Regions from separate parts of the Homo sapiens genome. Here region 2 is reported to be linked to region 1. The links are microRNA targets in miRTarBase. Many come from high-throughput screens and were not tested one by one. Region 1 holds a microRNA gene; the other region holds the end of a gene's coding sequence.

The links. The annotated mature microRNA hsa-miR-3680-5p reads GACUCACUCACAGGAUUGUGCA and lies in region 1 at 2,583-2,604, opposite strand. An mRNA with a match to its seed (bases 2 to 7 or 8) in the 3' UTR can be bound and repressed. Matches are read on the target gene's strand: a 7mer-m8 pairs with bases 2 to 8, a 7mer-A1 pairs with bases 2 to 7 and ends in A, and an 8mer does both.
Region 2: miRTarBase lists FCHO2 as a target of hsa-miR-3680-5p. Seed matches in the 3' UTR shown: 7mer-m8 at 680-686.

The regions. Positions count from the first base shown.
Region 1 is chr16:29,596,649-29,603,766 of GRCh38, forward strand. It overlaps MIR3680-2 (microRNA 3680-2), which reads right to left and starts at 2,617; the gene lies at 2,531-2,617. LOC105371168 (a long non-coding RNA gene) reads left to right here and starts at 1,143. Exons shown (of 2, transcript XR_950984.3): 1 at 1,143-1,174; 2 at 5,740-7,007. It also overlaps the pseudogene SMG1P2.
Region 2 is chr5:73,087,561-73,094,678 of GRCh38, forward strand. FCHO2 (FCH and mu domain containing endocytic adaptor 2) reads left to right here. Exons shown (of 26, transcript NM_138782.3): 25 at 29-193; 26 at 508-2,962. The coding sequence ends at 530. Among named protein-coding and RNA genes, the nearest start is that of TMEM171, 29 kb to the right of the region's middle.

The sequences.
Region 1 (7,118 bases):
CCGGGAGGCGGAGCTCCCAGTGAGCAGAGATCGCTCCACTGCACTCCAGCCTGGGCGACAGAGCAAGACTCCGTCTCCAAAAAAAAAAAAAAAAAAAAAAAGAGAATCAGCTGGGTAGAGGAGACGTACCTGACCATCTACCCCATGACATGTCCCATGCCCCAGGGAAAAAAATTCCCTAAACCATCTGATGCATAAAGTGAATGCATACACATTTTTTAAAAGGTGGGCCAGGATGCTCCTTAAACAAGTGTCTAAACCTTATCTGCATAAGGAGTCTTAACCTATCATTTTATGTTGCAAAGAAAACGTCTTTATATATCGCTTGTGCAATTAAAAATTGTAACCAAAAGTACTTGAAGATTATGAGGAGTTGACACCTCCACACACATGCATATCCCCTCCACCTTGGGCTCCTTGCTTATGGCCACCAATCCCTCACTAAGGGAGGATCCTGCCAGTTCTAAATGATGGGGACTACAAAAATTACCCGGCGTGGTAGCGCGTGCCTGTGGTCCCAGGAACTCAGGAGGGTGAGGCAGGAGGATGACTTGAGTCCAGCAGGTGGAGGCTGCAGTGACCTATGATCCCACCACTGCACTCCAGCCTGGGCTGCGGAGGGTAGGGAGGGAGGGAGGAGAAGAAAGAGAAAAGGCAGGGCACCATGGATGGCTGACTCCTGTAATCCCAGCACTTTGGGAGGCCGAGGTGGGTGGATCACTTGAGGTCAAGAGACCAGCCTGACAAACATGGTGAAACCCCGTTTCTACAAAAAAATACAAAAATTAGCCAGGCATGGTGGCGCACACCTGTAGTCCCAGCTATTTGGGGAAGCTGAGGCATGAGGATTGCTTGAACCCGGGAGCCAGAGGTTGCAGTGAGCCGAGATCGTGCCACTGAACTCCAGCCTGGGTGACAGAGCAAGACTGTCTCAAAAAAAAAAAAATCATTTAGGTGAAGTGATTCATGCCTGTAATTACAGTGATGGGAGGCTGAGACTGGAAGATCCTTGAGCCTGGGAGTTATAGGCCAGCCTGAGCAACATAGTGAGACCCCCATCTCTACAAAAAAAAATTAAATTTTTTTTTTTCAGACGGAGTTTCACTCTTGTGGCCCAGGCTGGAGTGCAATGGTGTGATCTCAGCTCACTGCAACCTCTGCCTTCCAGGTTCAAGTGAGTCTCCTGCCTCAGCCTCCCAAGTAGCTGAGATTACAGGCACATGCCACCATGCCTGGCTAATTTTGTATAAAAATTTAAAAAATTTTAAAATTAGACAAGTTAGAAATTGCTTGAGCAACTGGACACAATCTCTGGTACTACCTTTCTTTTTCTTTTTTATTTTTTTATTTTATTATTATTATTTCTTGAGAAGGAGTCTCGCTCTGTCGCCCAGGCTAGAGTGCAGTGGCGCAATCTTGGCTCACTGCAAGCTCTGCCTCCCGGGTTCAAGCCATTCTCCCGCCTCAGCCTCCCGAGTAGCTGGGATTACAGGCGCCCGCCACCAAGCCCGGCTAATTTTGTTTTTTGTATTTTTAGTGGAGACAGGGTTTCACCGTGTTAGCCAGGATGGTCTCAATCTCCTGACCTCGTGATCCACCCGCCTCGGCCTCCCAAAGTGATGGGATTACAGGCGTGAGCCACCGCGCCTGGCCCTCTTTTTCTTTATTGGTCAAAATATTATCCAACTAGGCATATGGATGTGGAGGCATGCCTGTGATCCCAATTACTTGGGAGGCTGAGGTGGGAGAATCGCTTGAGCCCACGAGTTTCAGGCTGTGGTGAGCCATAATGGTGCCGCTGCACTCCAGCCTGGGCAACAGGATGAGACCATTTCTTAAGGGGACGGAAAAAATCACTCTGGCTGTGGCAGATTTCCTTAGGATAGATTCCGAGAAGTGGAGTTATTGGGGAAAAGGCTGTTAATGATTTTAAGTCTTTGGATACAGACTGTTAAGTTGCTTTCCAGGAAGTTTCTGCCAATGATAGTCTGATACTTTCTGTGTCCTCACACCACCCTTTGTCAACACTGAGTGTTTTTTGAGGGTTAATTATTTCTATGGGAGAAGTTAAAAAAAAAAAAAAGACAACAAAGAAATTGCTTCAGGTGGGGCATGCTGGCTCACGCCTGTAATCCCAGCACTTTGGGAGGCTGAGATGAGAGAATCACTTAAGCCTAGGAGGTGGAGGTTGCAGTGAGCCTAGATCGTGCCACTACACTCCAGCCTGGGCAACAGAGTGAGACTCCATTTCAATAAAATTAATCAAATGAATCAAACGTGAGCAACTCTCATAACTTCCAACATTTTTTTCTTCTTCCTGTTGGTGGTTCTGCCTCTCTGGCTCCATTAGGATTTCCCTACTCCATTTCAGTCATGGGAACCGAGTTTCTGTTCCTGAAACACACCAAGCCTTTCTGGCCTCTGGATTTTTGTACTTGCTGTTCCCGCCATCTGGAATGCCTTCCCTGCATTTGTTCCCATCAGGGTTGGGACTAGCAAAGTGACAGGGGATGGAGTTGCTGAGGGTGCAAAATTTAAGGAGGCACCTACTCCCAGGGTCATGCAAAAGCCAACTTTGCATTTGCACAATCCTGTGAGTGAGTCCCTCCTTAAATTTGAGGCTGTACTGTAATCCCAGCTACTCAGGAAGCTGGGGCAGGAGAATTGCTTGAACCTGGGAGGCAGAGGTTGCAGTGGGCCGAGATCCTGCCTTTGCACTCCAGCCTGGGCAACAGGGCGAGAATCCGTCTAAAAAAATGAGGCTCTAGACACCACATTTGCCCTACTCTGGCCCCTGCCCTGATTTTCCTGGCCTGTCTCATCTCCAGACAGGTTTGCTTTGACCTCCCTGCCCATAAAAGTTGGCCAGTGCCCTTTCCAGGTACTCTGTCATATACCCTATTTCTTTCCTTGGTAGTACCCAGCACCATCTGCAAGTATTGGGTTTCTTTGCACATTTAGCATCTGTCCAACCCTTAGGATATCAGCTTTGCAAGAGCAAAGGTCACGTCTATCTCAGCCTACCTCCTCCATACTCAGCACACAGCACAGCACCTGACCATAGGAAGCACGCAAGAAATGGGAGGAATGAAATGGAAATTATCTAAAATAAGGATCAAGATTGATACAGAAGTATTCATCTCAGCTTTACTTATTAATAGCAAAACAAAAACAAAACACCTGGATATTATACTAATTCTCAACAATAGGAAACTGATTAGGATGCAGTACATTCAGAGCTGAAATTTTCTGCAGCCATTACAAATTACATTTGTGAAGATTTTTTTTTTTTTTTTTTTTTTTTTTTTTGAGACGGAGTTCTGCTCTTGTTGCCCAGGCTGGAGGGCAATGTCTCGATCTCGGCTCACTGCACCCTCCGCCTCCTGGGTTCAAGCAATTGGTCTGTCATTTTCAGACCCAACAGAAACAGAGGTGCTCCTGCCAGGCCCCCGGGGACTGCCTCCAGGAGTCATTTGTAATGACAGGGTGCGTTCTGCGCACAGTTTCAGAGTCTGTCCAAAGGGCCAATGCTGGGGCTGGGCAGAAACGATCCAAGGCCTGTGAGCTGTGCAGCTTTATAGGCAAATGAAGATCGTTTACCCAGAATTGCCTGCTGGAGACAGCATAGAGGAAGTGGCGGCAACTTCACCAGTTCCAGGAAGCCCAGGCAGCCTGGTCCCCCAGGGTGCACCTGGCACAGCAGTTCGCATGGGGCCAGAGAGCGGCAGCTGACCGCTGCAACTACAGCTGGCCTGACACCGGGCACAGGTACCAGCCCAGCCCAGTCCCGCCCAGCGCAGCCTGCGGCCCCTAGCCGAACCAGCACCTGGCAAACCTGACACCCAGCCTTGGAGCTTGGGCCCCCCTCTGCAGCTGGCTGGGGCTCCTGAGACAGCTTCTTTGTCGGAATCCACTCAGTACACACACGGTCCCAAACTTAGTGGCTGCCCAGTGAACATGGGGCTTAGTAGAACCAGTACCTTCCTCCCTGGCCCCTTCAAGTCTAAATATCCCCTGCTCTGAGTACAAGCCTCCACCTTCTCCACTGATAGACAGCCCCCACCATCTCCACCGACAGACAGCCCCCACCTTCTCCACCGACAGACAGCCCCCGCCATCTTCACCGACAGACAGCCCCCACCATCTCCACCGGCAGACAGCCCCCACCATCTCCACTGACAGACAGCCCCCACCTTCTCCACCGACAGACAGCCCCCACCATCTTCACCGACAGACAGCCCCCACCATCTCCACCAATAGACAGCGCCCACCTTCTCCACTGATAGACAGCCCCCACCATCTCCCGTGTCATCCCCTGGGGGGACTTGTAAAAGCAGTGGTCGGGGAGCGGGATGGAAACCCAGAGCTTCTGATCAGGCAGGTCGGGGGAGAGGGAGACAACACATCTGCACAGAACAAGGTCCCAGGGAGGCCGGCGCTGCTGGTCCAGGGAGCACCCCCCAGCACAGGCGCGTGCTTCCCTGATGGACACGTCACCACCCCTGGGCTCCAGAAAATGAATGTCTGACCCAGTGACCCCTGTCCTCACCCAAGGCCAACCTCACCCCAGAATGGGCTGGAATGCTGAGCCTGCCCATGCCAGCTCCAGATCCACCCACCTCCCCACCATTGCTGGCCACAGAGAGAGGTCAAAGTGGTCCAGAAACCCCAAGGAAAATGAAGCAGTTCCGGGGCAGGGAAGCAAAGGCAGTGTTTCCATTTTTTTTTTTTTTTTTTTTTTTTTTTTTTGAGACAAAGTCTCGCTCTTGTCGCCCAGGCTGGAGTGCAATGGTGCGATCTTGGCTCACTGCAACCTCCACCTCCTGAGTTCAAGCCATTCTCTCACCTCTACCTCCCGAGTAGCTGCAGCCTCTGCCTCCGGGGATCAAGTGATTCTCCTGCCCCCTGCCTCAGCCTCCTGCCTCAGTAGCTGGGATTACCGACACCTGCCACCACGCCCGCCTAATTTTTGTATTTTTAGTAGAGACAAGGGTTCACCATGTTGGCCGGGCTGGTCTCGAACTCCTGACCTCAGGCGATCCGCCAACCTTGGCCTCCCGAAGTGTTGGGATTACAGGCGTGAGCCACCGTGCCTGGCCAGGATGGTCTGCTTATAATGGCTCAATTTTGATGTCCAGTCTCTGCAGAGCACAAGGCCCCCGCTTTGGGCCAGACATACAGATGTCCCTGGGCAAGAACAGAGATGATCCCAAGGCCCTGGCCCCACCTGTCTGCTCAGTGTTGAATCAGGTTTCTGTGAAAACAAATTACTAACAGGCTGGTGTCACATTTTCAAATTCTGTCACCAGCCGTTGAACACATGTCTTTGTACTTTTTTCCATTTTTAACCGGGGCTGAGTTACGCCCAACCACACTGTCCTGGCTGGCACGGGGGAGGAGGTGTCAGCTGCTGTCCAGAATGGGGCTGACACATTCATTTTAAACAGGCCAGGAAGATGCAGATTTGGCAAGCTCTGAAATTTGCCGACACCCCAAGTCAAGGGTAAGCAGGAGAACCGGAAAAGGGCAGCTTCTCATGTAGTCAGGTTCTCCTGATGCAAGCGTCCTGGTGGATTTGGGTTTCCCAAGGGTCCTGACTCCAGGAGACCCCCAGGACCGACAGGAAGGGCCACCCCTCCCTCTGAAACTCTGAAGCCAGGCCACCCAGTGCTGAAATGCTGTGTGAACTCGGGCAAGTTCCTTTGCAGGGACTGAGCCTCCCTTTCATGTCTCCAACAGACTGGAACACTGCCTCCCGTTGCATGGGCGAAATACCTCGCGGACATGTCTTACGGCGCCCCATGAAAGCATCACCATTAATCTGACCAGTCACTGCAGCATGAGTATCTTCAGGGCACAGATGAAGCCATGGGCACCAGTGATAAGGAGTTGCCACTGCTGGCTAAGTGCGGAGCCTCACACATCTGTGGCCCAGAAACCCATACCCCACTCCAAACCCTCTATAGCTCCAACAGTTATGCTAACAAGAAAAAGGAGTGAAAACCCGCTCCAGTCACGGTATTGTGGAGGTGGAAGGACACTTGTGGCAGCCAATCCAACACCTCCATTTTATAGCTGGGGTAAACATAGTTCAGAGAGGTTGTCCCACTTGCTGAAAGTCACACAGCAGTTCCTGGGCGGCAAAGTGAGGACATCCAGGTCTCCTAAATCTCACCCTCGTGCTCTGCCCACTTAACTAGGCTTTTCAATCCTGGCTGTCAAAGAGAAGCACCAAGTCCACTTGGGCTCCTGGCCAGCATCCAGGCCAGTCCAACTCAACAGCAAGCGGAAGCAAATACCACACAATGAACTTGTTGAACAGACTCTGTGCTCAGGCTTAACCAGTGCACAGCCTGTACACCCGACAGGCGGATGCAGCTGTTCCAAACTAAGGCCAGGGCCTCTCCCCAATCCCGATGGGCTCTGCAGGTGCAGTGATGGAAGAATCCCTGGTGACGGGGAGCCCTTAGCTCTGAGCAGGACCTGAAGCCATCTCAGGGCTTGCACCGGTCCAGATGCTGCTGCACAAGTGCTCCAGGGGCTCCTGCCCTGCCCTCCTCACTTGCCCCCTCACCTGTCAGGGATGTTTGATTCCTGGCTGGCCCCTCCCCTACCTGACCCCTGCCAAAGACCTACGCCACCCCAGGCTCCCAGCTCTGAAGCAAACAACCAGAGAAGTCAAGCGCCTGGCTCCGGGCCACACAGCTTGAGGGACTCAGAGCTCCAGGGACAGTGCCCGGGCCCTGCTCAGGCCTTCTGCAGAGGCTCTGGGCTCTTCCAGTTGACTCAGCTCACAGGGCCCCTACACAGTACCAGGTGAAGACACAGCCCCAAGAACCCTCAGGGTCTGAAGCCACACATGTGAGCCGTGGGCAGAATCCTGCATTGGCCTCCAGCAGCTCGAGAGCACAGGGACAAAGCTGGACTGGCCCCGGGGTCACCGTGGCCTTGGTTTTGTAGCAGCTGCAGTTTGAGCACGTACACCAAAAATAAAATTCTAAGCCCCGTAACTGACTGAAGGGACCACTCCTATTGGCCAAAGGGATATTCCAAAGTTAACCTGAAAAACGAGCTCAGGTCATGATGGGAAGAGGGGTCACACAGGCCTTGTTATACCC
Region 2 (7,118 bases), not on the chromosome of region 1:
TGTAAGTGCTTTATTCTTTTCTTTGTAGGTTCTGGGTCCCTCCGAGCAAAATTTGATCTTTCAGAAGGACCTAGTAAACCCACGACACTTGCAGTACAATTCCTCAGCGAGGGAAGTACCCTTTCAGGAGTAGATTTCGAACTTGTGGGCACTGGCTATAGGCTTTCCTTAATAAAGAAGCGGTTTGCTACTGGTAAGTTAGGAGATTTCAAACTTTTTAATGTACATGGGAAACATTTGTATTCTAACAGTTATTAAAAAACTGTCAAGCAATTTATAATCTAAAGACATGGAAATTTTTTCTTTAACCCTTGGTACAAGGTGCCAGGTAGAGACACACCTGGGAGAGAGTTCTTACGGTCAGTATAGCTGAACACCTGTTATCTGATTCTAATGTACTGTAAATAGCAGATGGGAACTAGAGTTTTGTATTGGTAACCACAGTGGAAAATGTCCTTAGAGTGCATTTGAAATTGTAATTGCAAAGGTCTGCTTGGCGTTTTTCAGGACGATACCTGGCGGATTGTTGATGGACCTGGGAAAGTGATGTGGCTTCAGGGATTACAAACCTGCCATTCTGCATTATCTGTTCTTTCCAAACACTATTTTAACTTGTATGATGTCTTTCAAACTTAGACATATTTGAGAGCTGACTACAAACATTAAATCGCACTTTTAAAGTGAGTCATTGAAATAAATAGTACTGAAATGATTCTCTATGTTGTAAATGATCAACTACAATATTCAGGAAGCACATTTATTCAGATTCTCAGTAAAAATGAAGTTTTTGTAGGATTAATTTTTAAATTATTTCCAGTGTCTATGTTGAAAAAAAGGGTTATAGTGTAATATCAGGCCTAAAGTTTCAGAAGAGCAAGCACAAAGTAATTTAGCTTTCCATACATTTTTAGAGTCAGAGATAACTTTGAAATTTCATAAGTTTGATATTCAGTGGATACAAATAGAACATGAATTCTAAGTTTTGGGTAATGTTAACTCAGAACACTTAATCAAATTGAGCTATGTGCCATAAGGTAATCAGACCAGAGTCCAAGTTGTATGCAAAAAATCTATAATTTGATTCTCATAAACATATTAATAAAGTATAAGTGATGTTTTATATGATTTTTAAAAAAAATTCTCAAGTGCAATGTGTTTTAAAATAAGCTTGCAAATGACAGCAGAGACATTTACTTCTGCAGTTAGTTAACTTTATAGGAGTTGTGATTTTTTTGATGAATTAATGCTGTAGATTTAATTTATTTTTATATGGAATTGCATAATGTGTGCCTTTTAAAACAATAACAAAAACCAGAGATGTGCCTATACAATTTGTGTTCATTAATGTGCCTCACTTTTTTTCTCAGTCTGAATCTTCTGTTCAGAATCTTACAGTGATCAAGCATTTTTATAAGATATTTGCAATTTTTGTAAATATTTTTGGCCTGCAACTGGGAAGGGGATTCAGAGTCATAAAGCCTAACTTAAGAATCCTGGCTCACTTCTTTGGTGATACACTGTAGCCACTAGAAAGAGAAATAAACCCAATGGCATGTGTTTACAGGAAGAAAGATTACCTTCAGATACTTGACATTAACCTCATCAAAAGTGTGTGAATTTTAAAACAAATTCTAAAAAAACTATAGTGCTAAATTGGTAACTGGTATTTTAACTCTCAATTTAGCATTTTCCTTGATACTTTATCATTGAAAATTTATGCATTTATTTACTGATTGTGTTGTGAACATGAGTTTTATGGTATTTTGTGAGGGATGCATTTTTTAAAAGATTAATTTTGGAAACAGAAGGAGAAGCACTGCCATTTGTTTTTATTTCAACAATTGGAAAAATTACCAATTTGTACATTTTAATTATTCAATTTCTACTTTGTAAAAATAGGGAAATTATTTGAAGTGATATATTTGGTTAAACATTTCTAAAAATAAACTACCAATACTAAATAGTAAGAAACCTAACTTTAGTAGCAAATCTTGATTAATTGAAGAAATAAAATATTTCGGATAAGGTTTCATAATTTACAAATGGGAATTTCATTTATAATAATAAATATGAGTGTCCTTTATTTGCCTAGTAGAAGTGATAAATTGTGTTATATATGATAATTTATATAAAACCACTAATTGTTCCGTTAAGCTTCACAGAAAATAAAACCTCTATTACTAGACATTTATGTAACATCTTGCTGTACTAAATACAGCAGAAAATCTACTCTTTAGCAATATATAACACAGTATATGCTTTTTTATATATTCAATGTTAGCCCAAGTCTGAATTTACATTTGACTAAAGCAGCACATAAGATAATTTGCTAAAATGCTAATCTTTACTAAATAGTGAGCTAAATTAGAATTTCTAACTCTTATATTGTGCTCTTTTAAATGCCAATTACAGTCCCTTACTGGAATTCTAACTGTAATTTGCTTTGCAATCAAACTGCTTTTAGGGCAGCCAATATTTTATTATTGGAATTCAGACACTGTTCTTACCGTGTTTGTTTTTAATCAAATATTACCTAAAAATGTACAAATTAGTGAAATGGTTAAACTTCTGCACTTTCTTAGTTACCACAGTCTTCATACCAAGTATTGGGTACAGGTTACAATTTTGAAGCCATATGAGTTTATATTGATTTTTTTTTTCCATTTAAAAATCCACTAATGGTGTAAAAGAGACCAGTAGATTTTCAATGGGAAATGTACCTAGCAAGCTGGTTCTTGCTTATATATAGTGATAAACTTTGTAGCTGCCTCTTTAACCAAGAATTTGTAAACACAACTCTAATAAATGTGAGTTTTAAAGGATTGTTATTTACTACTTTGGATTGTAATTAGAACAATGCACATCTGTCTTCCAAGATTTTGTAAATATTTTTGATTTTTTTCATTAAATGTAAATTTTACATAAAAGTTGTGCTCTTAATAAACATGTAATATATAATTTATCAATTGGTTTATGTGTCTTTGTACTTGATAGTAATAGCTATATCATAATGTTAGGACAAGGCAAGCTGGCCAAGTAATTGGTTTTTAACTTTGTACTACTGTTTGAACAGGCGTACAGATCGAACTGTTATTTATTGGTTATATAGAAAGCTTCATTTGGAGTATATCCCAAAGTGTCAAAATTGTTTAACAAGGGATTATTTTTAATATATTTTAAGATATATTTAAATTGATGTTAAATTTTTGCAGACTTTCTTCCTAACCAGTTGCTCAGGAACACAGTCTCAGACAGTTCAAAAATCATAATGTTCCAAAGAATTAGTTAAGACAATCAAGCCTCCCAAAATGGTAAATTTAGGAAGGAGCAAAAGAAGGAAATTAGAAAAGAAAGAATTTATCCTAACTATTGAAAATTTTGGGCTGGGTGCAGTGGCGCATTACTGTAATCCCAGCACTTTGGAAGGTCGAGGTGGGCAGACCACATGAGGTCAGGAGTTCGAGATCAGCCTGGCCAACATGGTGAAACCCCAACTCTACCAAAAAATATAAAAATTAGCTGGGCATGGTGACGTATGCCTGTAGTCCCAGCTACTCGGGATGCTGAGGTAGGAGAAGTGCTTGAACACGGGAGGTGGAGGTTGCCGTGAGCCAAGATTGTGCCAGAGCACTCCAGCCTGGGTGACCAAGTGAGACCCTGTCTGAAAAAAAGAAAAAATGTTGCCAATCTGTGTTAAAAAAGGAACAGCTTAATTTATCTAGGTAGGCCAGGGCAGAGGAACCTGTGGAAAGATCTGATAGCACTCACCATTCATACCATATGCCCATCGTTTTCTTCCTTTTTCCTCTTCATCCCATTCCCACCTCTGTTAGACTAAATGATGCTAGCTGCTGCAATAGCTAAGCACAATACTTACTACATTGCTCTTATCACAGTCATAAGTAGGTTTGAGGAGGAGTTCTGCTCCATATAGTAATTCAGGGGCCCAGGCTCTTCCCATTCTGTGATTCTGCTTAAAATCTTCATTTGGCCGGCAGATGAAGAAAAAGCAAAGATTAGATGGGAGTTTTTATGGGCCAGGCCCAGAAGAATTGGCATCATCACTTCTGACCATATTCCATGAGCCAGGATTTGATCTTGTGGCTCCAACCAACTGCAAAAAAAGATGGGAAATGTAGTTTGGTTATGTGCCCAGGAAGAAAACGGGGTTTTGATAAACACAGAGTAAACCTCTGCCATGTACCCCACCCCTGCTCCATTTTGTTATTTTCTTTGTTCCTTTTTCCTAATGTGCATTTAATGGTTTCAGTGGCTCTCAGTATTAAAGGTTTTTTCCATGATTTCTTACTGTATGTAGCTATTTTATCCATATTTTTAAATATATATAATTATTTCCATACGCCTCCTAATGATCGTTTCTGAATGAACATTTGTGATAACTCAGAAACCACTGCTTATCTTTTTAGCATGAGTGTTTTATCTGTCAGTAATGTTTTTAGCCTCAAGTAACAGAAACAGAACTAAGAATGGTTTAAACCAGCAGTACCAACCTTTTTGGCACCAGGGACCAGTTTTGTGGAAGACAATTTTTCCATGGATGAAGCGGTGTGGGGAGATAGTTTCAGGATGAAACTGTTCCACTCAGATCATCAGTCATTAGTTAGATTCTCATAAGGAGCGTACAACTTAGATCCCTCACATGCGCAATTCACCATAGGACTTCCGTTCCTGTGAGAATCTAATGCTGCCGCCGATCTGACAGGAGGCAGAGCTCAGGCAGTAATGCTTGCTCACCTGCTGCTCACCTCCTGCTGTGCAACGTGGTTCCTAACAGGCCACAGATCACTACCAGTCTGTGGTCTGGGGTTGGGGTCCCCTGGTTTAAACATTTTTTTCATATCACAGCTCAAGTTACCTCTTGTTGGCATTGGTCAGAACAAGTCATTCGCCCTTTCTTTACGGTTGGAGTATGGCAGCCATAGCTCCAGACTGTATGTGTTTACATCCACAGCTAGGAGGGACAGTTCCAGTATGTCTGTCTTTTTTTTGTACGAAGAGTAAAAGTTTTTCCAGAAGCTCCCAGCTCGTATCTGTTTACGTTCTGTTGGCCTGAATTATGTAAGACAGGCAGAGAAAACAAGTAGCCTTCATAATGAAGGTGGGTAAAGGAGAAGGGCCTAGGAATGGCTGGAAGTAAGCTGGCCAGCAATCAGACACAGAATTTCTGCTGGTACAGGCATGTTTCCATATAGCATATTGCCAAGCAAGTCTGCACCTATCCCAATCAACTTTTTAACCCATTTTTTAAATAGTGTGAACTCAGCAATGAGCAGGATGAACTTAATTAAGTATTCAACTTTTTAGGAACAGTAAACTGGTATAATCTTTCTGACGATTTGAATCCAAAGGCTTTAAAATTTTTTTTTAATCTATGTATCATGTAAACTAGTCATTCACTTGGGAATTTGTCCTAAGAAAATAATGAGACATAAGCAAAATTATGTATGCAAAGATGTTTATTGCAACATTGTTTATAGTATGCAAAATTGAGAGGGTTGGCTGAGTTGATAACTCCCATATAGTGATACACTATGCGGCTTTTAAAAATAATTGTGAAGATCCACAGTCACTGATATTGAGATATTACCACAATATTATTAAATGGTAAAAGGTAATATGCCATTTTTGTTTTTAAAAGTGCATACATCAGGCCAGACGCAGTGGCTCACGCCTGTAATCCCAGCACTTTGGGAGGCCGAGGCGGGCAGGTCATTTGAGGTCACAAGTTCAAGACCAGCCTGGCCAACATGGTGAAACCCCATCTCTACCAAAAATACAAAAATTAGCCAGGCATGGTGGCGCATGCCTATAATCCCAGTTACTTGGGAGGCTGAGGTGAGGCAGGAGAATCACTTGAACCCACGAGATGGAGGCTGCAGTGAGCCGAGATCGCACCACTGCATTCCAGCCTGGGTGACAGAGTGAGGAAAAAAAAAAAAAAAGCATACATCTAGAGCAAAACTTTTTGCAAAAGCATTCACCAAGCCGTTATAATCTATAGGTGGTGGGATTTTTATTTTTAACAATATGTTAGGTGTTATCTAAATTTTTTTATAATTAGTACATATTACATCTACAATTATAAACTAACTATGTTTTGGAAAATAGTTGCATAGAGTGCAAGTTGAACTTTCTGTTGATGCACAAAGATCTCTTCACATAAGGATCTTCCTATTTTGATTATTGCCTTGCCTTACGTGGTCCTACCAATATAGCCAGGTTTTTTGTTTGTTTTGTTTTGTTTTGTTTGTTAACGTATGAAGTAGATTGCTGATCTAATTTTTATTCTTTTTGGTCTCAAAGCCAAATGTCATATTTTGTTTTCCCTAAGTGGATACAGGATCAGTTTGTTTTTTTTTTCTGGGAATATATTTTGCCCAAATTACTCTCTTAAGAAAAGTGTCGGCCGGGTGCGGTAGCTCACGCCTGTAATTCTAGCACTCTGGGAAGCTGAGGTGGGCGGATTGCCGGAGCTCAGGAGTTCAAAACCAGCCTCGCCAACATGGAGAAACCCTTTCTCTACTAAAAATACAAAAAACTAGCTGGGTGTGGTGACACATGCCTGTAGTCCCAGCTACTCCCAAGGCTGAGGCATGAGTCACTTTCACTCAGGAGGTGGAGGTTGCAGTGAGCCAAGATCATGCCACTTCACTACAGACTGGGTGACAGAACAAGGCTCTGTCTCAAAGAAAAAAAAATGTGATCCAGAGAAGTGACAGAGGTTAGCCTTTGGCAAAATTAAGAGCCTTTTAAGTTCAGAACCTTAATGTCATCACATACTCAATGAATAGTGACTGTTTACACCATTGAAATTCCCAAAAAGAGTAACCTAAAGAGTGATGAGCTTGCAACAAAGATTAGGTTATTTGGTTTTTCCACCTTCTGTCAATAAAATATTTCCATTAGTTGGGGAACTTATGGAGTGAATTTCAAATTGTTCAGGAAGTGTAAAGGCATACTTTGAAACCATCTTCATGCTATTTGCATGAAGCATGTTTCAGTATGACAGGCAACCAGGGTACCTGCTTGAGGTAAGGTGACCTTTAAGGTTGGTGATTGACTGTATACATCAGAATCATAATCCTGTCAGTGCAAAA